3 separate regions of the Homo sapiens genome follow, and regions 1 and 2 are each linked to region 3. The links come from fine-mapping of genetic effects on gene expression. A gene starts in region 3. Each other region holds a variant in brackets. All regions are shown on one strand. Distances are from middle to middle.

Region 1 (2,764 bases), 37 kb before region 3:
AATTGGTTCTGATTCTAGATTTTGACATTCATGTTTAGTCTTCATTACCTTCATCAGCTGTTCATTCTCTTGTAATAAGTCATTAACTTCCTTTTGCATTTTGTTTTGTTCTTCCTTTAAAGTCATGATTTCTTGCTTTAAACCACCAGCCTCGCTCTTAGAATTGTTTTGGTTATCTGTCATCTCAGATCTCAGAGCTTGCTGCACTGTCTCCAACTCTAGCATCAGATTCTGATTTCTTTCTTCAGCAAATGCTAATTTTGTTAAGAATTCTTGGTGTTCCTTTGCAAATGCTTCCTTTAGCTGTTCCAACTCATTTTTCCTATTTTCACAAAGACTAGTGCATTCATTTAGCAAGCATTCTAATTTAGAATTCTTTTCCTGTGCTGCTTTGTATTTTTGACTAAGATCCTCATATGCATTTCCGGTTTCTTCACATCTTTGTAGTAAAATAAGTTTTTCTTGCTTGTACTGATCAGATAACTCTGAAATGCTTTTCTCCCTTTCATCTATATAGTTTGCAAAACTCTCACTTTTCTGGATTAAGTTCATCTTCTCTTGATTTAAGGATGCATTAATTTCCTTAAGAGTCCCATTCTCTTGGGTCAGCTCTTCAATTTCCCTTTTATTTAGAGAAATGATGGAACTCATTTCTTTCTTCTCCAAGCTTAGGGTTTCGGATAAAAGTTGTAGCTCCTTTAGAGAGTCTTCAAGTAGATGGTTGCTCTTTTTTAATTCTTGAATCTCTGCCTGCTCAGTTTCTACCTTATCATTTAAAAGTTGCAGCTCTTTTTCCTTGTTCTCAAGGGCACTTAAGGTTTCAGCAACAACATTCTGGTGAGCAGAAGTGTCTTCCTGTAACTTACTAATGCGCTGACTTGTTTCAGCCACAAAACTTTGATGCATCTGTTCTGCTTTCATGAGATTTTCTTCTATTTCTCCTTTGATTTGCACCAACTCTTCACACTGCTTTTGCAGGTCTGAGTTCATCTGTTTTTGAGACTCTAATGAAAATTCAAGTGAATCAACTCTATTTTGTAGGATGGCAGAATTTTTCGGACTTTGGTCTGCTTCTAAACGACATTCACTCCTCTCTGAAGGCATGCTTCCTTGTTCTCCAATTATATTTGCAAAGGAATGATGCATGGCAGGCTGCTGATCAAAAGCCAAAAGACTTCTCTGATGATCTTCATTTGTCACCAGAGAAGCATCTTTGGATTTTAGCAGATCCCTGAGGCTCTCATATTCGGCATGCAAGTCTTGGTAACACCGGTCTTTGTCCATTATTTCATTTGACAGTAACTGAAGCTTGTGTTCTAGATCTTCAACTTGCCCAGTAAGCTGAGAAGTCTTCAAACACATATTTTCTATTTCCTTCTGATGTTTCTGATCTGAGAACTCAGCTTTCTGCTGTAGCTCCATATAAGCTAGTTTCTGGGTCTCTACCTCCACTGACTTACTGTCTAACACGTTGTGAAGGTTTCTGATCTCGACACTTAGGTTTTCTC[T/G]GTCCATCTCCAGCGTTCTTACTCTCTCGTTGTATTCATGACTTTTTATTTGCTGTGTCTTCAGACAAGTTTCCAAGTGATTAATTTTACTCTGCAAGTTTTCCTTTTCTGATTCCATCTGAGTTAAAAGTTTTTCGTTTTCACTTTTCCAACAAGAAAACAGAGTTTTCTCTTCTTTCAATTCTTCATATTCTTTCTTTTTTAACTCTAAAGCACTCAGCAAGGCTTTGGACTCTTTCTCTGTCTTGCTTAACTTATCATTAAGTTGTTCAATGTGATGTTCTCTTTTCTTCAAAAGGTCTTGAGAACAATCTCGCTGCTTTTCCAGATCAGCCACAGCAAGCTTCAGTTTTTCTAAAGTCAAGGAGTTTTCTTGCTGATTTATTTTTTCTTGAAGATCTCTTAACATGGTTTCCTGAGAGGTATTCTTCGCTATTTAAAAATAAATAAAAGTCGTCAATGTTTGTAATAAATGTTTATTCTACAGAAACGCTAACCCCTCCCCCCGCCCCCTGGCAAAATCCAAACAAACTAACAACTACTCAAGCCCTGGAAAAACTGGCATTATTGCCTGGGTACCTCCTAGAAAGTGGATCACTTGGTAATTATCTTATATAAAAATGAGAAAAATGGTTATCTTAAGGAGAGTAACACATTTGTTCATCTTCTTTCTAGCAGCTTAAGAACATGTTATTGAATAAAATACCAAGGGATGATTTTCCTAAGCACTGTTTCTTTTCTTTGTATGTGTTTACATATGTGTATATTTTTACCATCTTTTCAAATATTTATTCCAAGAGAGAAAACTGGGACAAGAACAGCACTGAAATGGGAACATCCCACTTTATTGTAGAGTAATTCTGATGTCTCAGAAAAGTAAATAAGTACTCCACCATTTTAGCTAAAACATCCACAGGATTAGACTTAAGTAGAAAAGAGTAAATGATGCCATATATCAGTAATTCTCAAGGCCTATATGTGAATATTCCTGAGGAACATTATCACCCCCATCCCAGCCCCTCATAGTAAGGGTGGCAGTGTCTATGAATGTCACAGTCATTTGGAAGCTTCTTCAAACTCCGTTACCCCCTGTCTTCTGCCTAATGACTCATCTATACATACTGGCCCCTCCTGGTTGGGAATAACCACGATGTTTTCATTAAACAGTGATAAGAAGGCTTCATGTTGCTCAAGTATGTTGGGGGAGATTGAAAGTTGAGAACCTCCACAGTAGATGATAAAGGTAACATGTATTA
Region 2 (2,764 bases), 27 kb before region 3:
CCTATAGAAACATCAGCACACATACACAAAGATACCTGCCCCGTGATATTACAAACAGTGCCACAGGGAACAAGAAAATGTTGATAACCTAAGTATCCATCAGTAGAGGCAGCAGATTCAAGTGTAAGAGAAAAAGAAGAATAGAAGTGACATGGAGGTTTTGGTCCCAGCAATGCGGGGAATGGAAGTGCAAGTTAGCAGGGTAAGGAAGACTAAGGGAGGAACAGTTTTGAAAAAGAAAAATACCTAGAGTTCAATTCTTAGCATGTTACTATGAAGTGCCTTTAGACATGTGAGTGGACTGTCAAGCACACATCCACACACCTGAAGTCTAGAATAGACATCCAGGCTGGGTAGAGTCATCATCACATAGATGATATGTAAAGCCACAAAACTGGATGAGACCACTTTGGGAGTGAGTCTTAAATAAGTAAAGTGATTATAATTTTCAGTGCTTTAACTACTTGGGGGCATAAATTACTTGGGACAGCTCCCACCTGGTCATGGAACCAAGAACCAACAGATTATGAGAGAGCTCCACAGACTTTCGGATCTGAAATCCTAACTCACCCCCACTGTTTCTCTAGATGAGGAAACCTAGAGCCAGAATGGTTCTGTACATTCTCCACTTTGATAGGGAAAGTGAAGGTGGAGCGCTTTTTCTTTGAAAGTATCATATGTCAGTTATGGTAGAGAAGTAACAAGTACAAGGAACAAGAGGGGATGATTAAGGAGAGAGAGAGAGACACGGCCCCTACTTTATCCAGTTCAGCCTGCAGGACGTTGTGCATATTCTTGGCTTGCTGTAACTCCTGGGTGAGTCTGGCCTTCATCTGGATGCACTCCTGGTCCAGTGTTTGGAAAGAACGCTGTTGACGGGAGAGCTCCTGAAAAACAAAGGGCAGGTGCATCAGCCTGATGATGGTTCGCTAGGGAGACTCCAGGGTGAGGCATGAGCATCCTAACAGGCGACTGCACAGAGAGCACAGGAGACAGCAGGGAGCTGAGCCAACTGTCCACTTAACGATGAACATAGTCAGCCTTGGTGCTCCATGCTGCCCTCAGGCATCAAATCCAGGTCTCTGAGGGAAAGGGGAAGGACTCTTATCAGTTGACCACATGGAAAGTAGCCTGTTTCCACCTCATCTTCAGTCTTAAATTAATTACCTCTACTTTGAAGGATCAGGGGCAAGAGAGAAGAACTGAGCTACAACAGTCAAAGCTCAACTAAGAAACCAAACATACTCAAAAACGGTGTTTAAAACACAAAAAACTGTATACCACTTTAAATGGGCTTAAATGTAGAAGGACAGGAAATATATGCTACCCATTAACTTTAATAACCACAGAAAGATATCAGCTAACATTTCCAGGCATTCTTATTTAAAATCTATAGACTCTTAATCCGTATGGTACTTTTTCAGGCTAAATCACCTGAAAGAACCAAATTGGCAGATACTTATGGAAGGGCACCTTCCACCCTCACTCTTCTGCCAACCACTTTCCCCACCACATCAACTACCCTCCTAATTTATTTACCAACCCACAGGTTTAAAAACAACTGGAGTTGGCCAGGCATGGTGGCTCATGCCTGTAATCCCAGCACTTTGGGAGGCCAAGGTGGGTGAATCACCTGAGGTCAGGAGTTCGAGACCAGCCTAGCCAACATGGC[A/G]AAACCCCATCTCTACTAAAAATACAAAAATTAGCCAGGTGTGGTGGTGCATGCCTGTAATCCCAGCTCCTCGGGAGGCTGAGGCAGGAGAATTGCTGGAACCTGGGAGGTGGAGGTTGCAGGGAGCCAAGATTGTGCCATTGCACTCCAGCCTGGGTAACACTGCGAGACTCTGTCTCAAAAAAAAAAATACTGGAGTTATAAAGGAAATAGAGTGAAAGAAAAAAAAATTTTAAAAGCCTACTGGAAAATGTAATACAATTTCCTCCACAGCAGAGAAAATGTCCAAAAGAAGAAAAGTGATCCTTTCCTACTGAATATCAAATCTCAAACAAATCAGAAAACATGGATGAATTCTGAATACTAATTCCCTTCTCTAATCAAAAACTGAAAGATTTAAAAAAAGCGCAAAAGTGAAGATGTGAAAGAAAATAAGATGACCTTTAGCTCACAAAGCATTTCTCCTCTAAGAGAATTTCCCAAATTGTGATAACAACTCCCCTTTCCAAGTGATCAAACTATGAAAAGCCCATAAAAAGCCTTTCAGACAAACACCTCATGAATCCATTTACCTTACCTCTTGAAACTCCTTTTCTTTTTCCTTAATTTTCTGTTCCAGAGAACATCTGGCACTTTCTGCATTTTGTCGCTGACAACTCAAATCTTCCGTCAATTTTTTCAGTTTTTGTTCCAATGCAGTATACTAATAATGAATAAAAATGTTCAAGACAAAATAAATATTACTCACATAAATGAACAAATATTTTGTGTTTTAGAAAAACTGCTATAATTGTTTTAGCACACAATTTATGTTTAGGAACTATTAGCAAGGATGTAAAGCATTAGCCCACTTAAATAAATACTTCCTAATTTGTGCCATGAAAAAAAAGATCGGCATGTCTAACGATTCATCTAACATTTTGTTGCATGGAAATGAGAGGTTAAAATGCAATGGTGTTAGCCTATGTAATTTAAAAGCTGTAAAATCATCAGAGGGTGCCCATTACCCTCATATGATAGTCTGTTTCAAGCATAATGGATTTTGTGGGAAATTTTAAATATTAAAATGCTTCTTTCCACAATGTTCCAAAT
Region 3 (2,764 bases):
CTCCCATTTATCCCAAAACTACTGAAAGGAGTCACATGCCTCTCAACCAACAAAGGACAACTGACCCTGTCTCAATATCCTCCATTCCAATCTAGTTTGTCAGGAGTCAAAGAACTGTACCCAGAGACACACAACTGTAATTGCCCTAAACAATTCAGCCAGCAACTGAAATCATTACATCAAGATGCTATAGCCAACAGAATATAAAAAGGAGCAATTTAGAAAGATGATTAGAAAATGAGGGGAATAAACATAAAGAAGACTGGCAAGCTGAATGCTTTTCCATTCCAAAGTCTAAGATAGAGAACAATATAGATGTAGACCAAGCTAACTGTGATTAGAGCAGATTTTGGCCCATTAAGGGATCAGCTATCAGCCACCTGTATTGGGCCATTGGGGCAAAAGAACAAAAAAATAAACCCAGAAGTTTACTTTTGAGGAACAGGGAATCGAGGTGGGGAGTGAAGAAAAGCCCTGGATGAAGGTTCCTGCATGGAGGACTTGCAGGACTATTGTCCTTTCCAGAAAATGCTGTATCTTTATCTCTTAAATACGTGGAGGGCACTCTTCATGCCCGAACTACCCAGTCCCTTAGTCCCCAAGGAAGCTCTTGTGTGACCTCCTCCTGCCCCACCTCCACCACTGCTTTCCCGTTGTCAGAATTCCCCACCTCCTCCAAAAAGCCAGAGTCCCCGTGCACTGTACCAAGGCTGGGTCTGAGAATGATAACCCTGCCTTCTCCTCTAGGTCAGGCTCAAGGACACGACCCATGCCTTTTATTTCTGGGTCCTCATTACACAGCCGAGCCGGGCACACAGGCGCGTTCAAATAAATGTGGAAGGGAGGACCGGGCGTAGTGGCTCATGCTTGTAATCCTGGCACTTACAGAGGCCAAGGCGGGAGGATCCCTTGAGCCCAGGGGTTCCAGACCAGCCTAGGCAATATAGGGAGGCCTATCTCTATTTAAAAAAAGAAAAAAAAAAATGTGGACGGGAGGAAGAAGAGAGGGGAAAGAGAAATGCTCGCGTAACTAACCATAGGCACCCCACGTCGCCAACCAGATCAAAACTCAAGCTTACATCTACTCAATAAAACAAAGGACCAGGGCCTGAATTTCAATAAGGTTGGTTACGGGACTGGGAAGGCGGCTTGGAAATACCTAGTCATCTCCAATTCTTTTACGGAGGAAGAAAATGATCCCCTAAAGTGTGAGTCCGTGACCGAGTAGGGTCTGGGACACTAATCCGAGACCAGTTTGAACCCGAGCAGAAGGGCGCAGACACCCCTACGAACCACATCCCGGGGCGGATTCTCCAGTTCGGTCGGGTGGGAGGGGGCGGTCCCCGGCACCTACAGGGCCGGGAGAGTGATCCCAGAGGCCTCCCCGCCCAGTACCCGCCGGCAAAAAGCCAGCGGCACCCCCACGCCGCCCGCCGCCTACCGCCCGCCGCCAGGGCCAGGATCCGGACCCAGTCAGGACGCTCACCTTGCTCTCGGGGACGGGAAAACGACCTCTCGGAGAGTACAGTTCTGGCGCGGCTTCGGCGGGCTGGAGCCCAGAGTCTAATTCAAACTGCCCGCAGCCGCCACCGGTGCCCAATTCGCCCGCTTCTGGTCTCAACCAAACTTACCTCCACGCCTATTGGTCACTCTAAGTAGCTGCGGACCAATCCGCGCCTGCGCACTCAGACTGCCGCGTCTGATTGGCCCTTTCGGATGGATTTTAAAAACAAGCCCTCTACTGGAGGTGCCTGCGCCGGAGTTTACTGTTCTTTTTTGTTGTTGCGGGGAGACGGAGACCACGTGCTTTTGCTAATGCTAGACGCGGTTTTGGACCGCTATTTCCGCAAAAGTCAGGGAATGCGCCCGCTGATTAGGAAGGCGTGGTCTATCGCCTACAGCCAGGGGAACTGTGCTGCCTGGTGAAACCTCTTTTAAACTGCACGTACCAATCTACTTAATTAAACGTAAATTTAGGACATAGATACTAGGTGCTGTGTTTGTCATGCATTCTTTATCCGGTGTCGTTCTTAACAATTCTTTGAGGAAAGTATTATCCTCATTTTATTAAAAAGTTAACAGGCTCATAGAAGCTAAGTACAGTAATTTGAAATTGAATCTACGCAATGCAGGATGTCGCTCTTAAATGCTGTCCTTTATGGTTCATATTTCTAAGACGTGATTCTGAACACTTATTTTCCGGGATTAAGGCGTGGGGGGAGGACACTGCATCAGAATTTAAAATTCAGAAGAATCCTCAAAACGGGGTGTAATGCTTTTCGTGAAGCCCACTAGTTTTCTATGTATGTTATATACTCGTTTTATTTCCCTATTAAACTATAAATAAGCTTCTAAAGGCAGAAGCAAAACAATTAATTGTTAAAGTAATAGATCTCTAATGCTGTTGTCTGCCTCAATAGGTACCAAACTTTCCAGCCCCCTGACTTTACCTTTCATTAGACTGTTCCTGCAGTACCCAATTCAAGTGTCACTTTTTTTATAAAACCTCCCTAATCCCACCCACTCCTTAGAGATAATTATTTCCTAGACCTTTCCTGGAACTTGCAAACTTCATGTTTAGGATTTTCGCCGTGTCTTGTCTTGTATTTATGTCTACGTCTGACTCCCCCATCAGACTCAAAAATTCCTTTACAGTAAAATCTGTTTTAATTCATTTTTGCATCCCTAGTAACTTTGCACATAGTAATTTAAAATCCAGATCATCTTGGGAGATAAAACTGCTATTTGGGGAAAGGCCTTGTTC

The links. PIP is the estimated chance that this variant, and not a neighbour inherited with it, causes the effect.
Region 1: its variant is the best candidate, but not a certain one, in a credible set for the expression of CENPF in lung (TOPMed, PIP 0.74).
Region 2: its variant is the best candidate, but not a certain one, in a credible set for the expression of CENPF in T cells (TOPMed, PIP 0.85).

What each region holds. Positions count from the first base shown.
Region 1 is chr1:214,639,097-214,641,860 of GRCh38, reverse strand. CENPF (centromere protein F) reads right to left here. Exons shown (of 20, transcript NM_016343.4): 12 at 1-1,940. Among named protein-coding and RNA genes, the nearest start is that of CENPF, 37 kb to the right of the region's middle. The variant T/G (reference allele first, on the strand shown) is at 1,509.
Region 2 is chr1:214,628,657-214,631,420 of GRCh38, reverse strand. CENPF (centromere protein F) reads right to left here. Exons shown (of 20, transcript NM_016343.4): 8 at 2,250-2,375; 9 at 759-887. Among named protein-coding and RNA genes, the nearest start is that of CENPF, 27 kb to the right of the region's middle. The variant A/G (reference allele first, on the strand shown) is at 1,673.
Region 3 is chr1:214,602,044-214,604,807 of GRCh38, reverse strand. It overlaps CENPF (centromere protein F), which reads right to left and starts at 1,613. Exons shown (of 20, transcript NM_016343.4): 1 at 1,487-1,613. RefSeq lists a silencer at 1,510-1,719.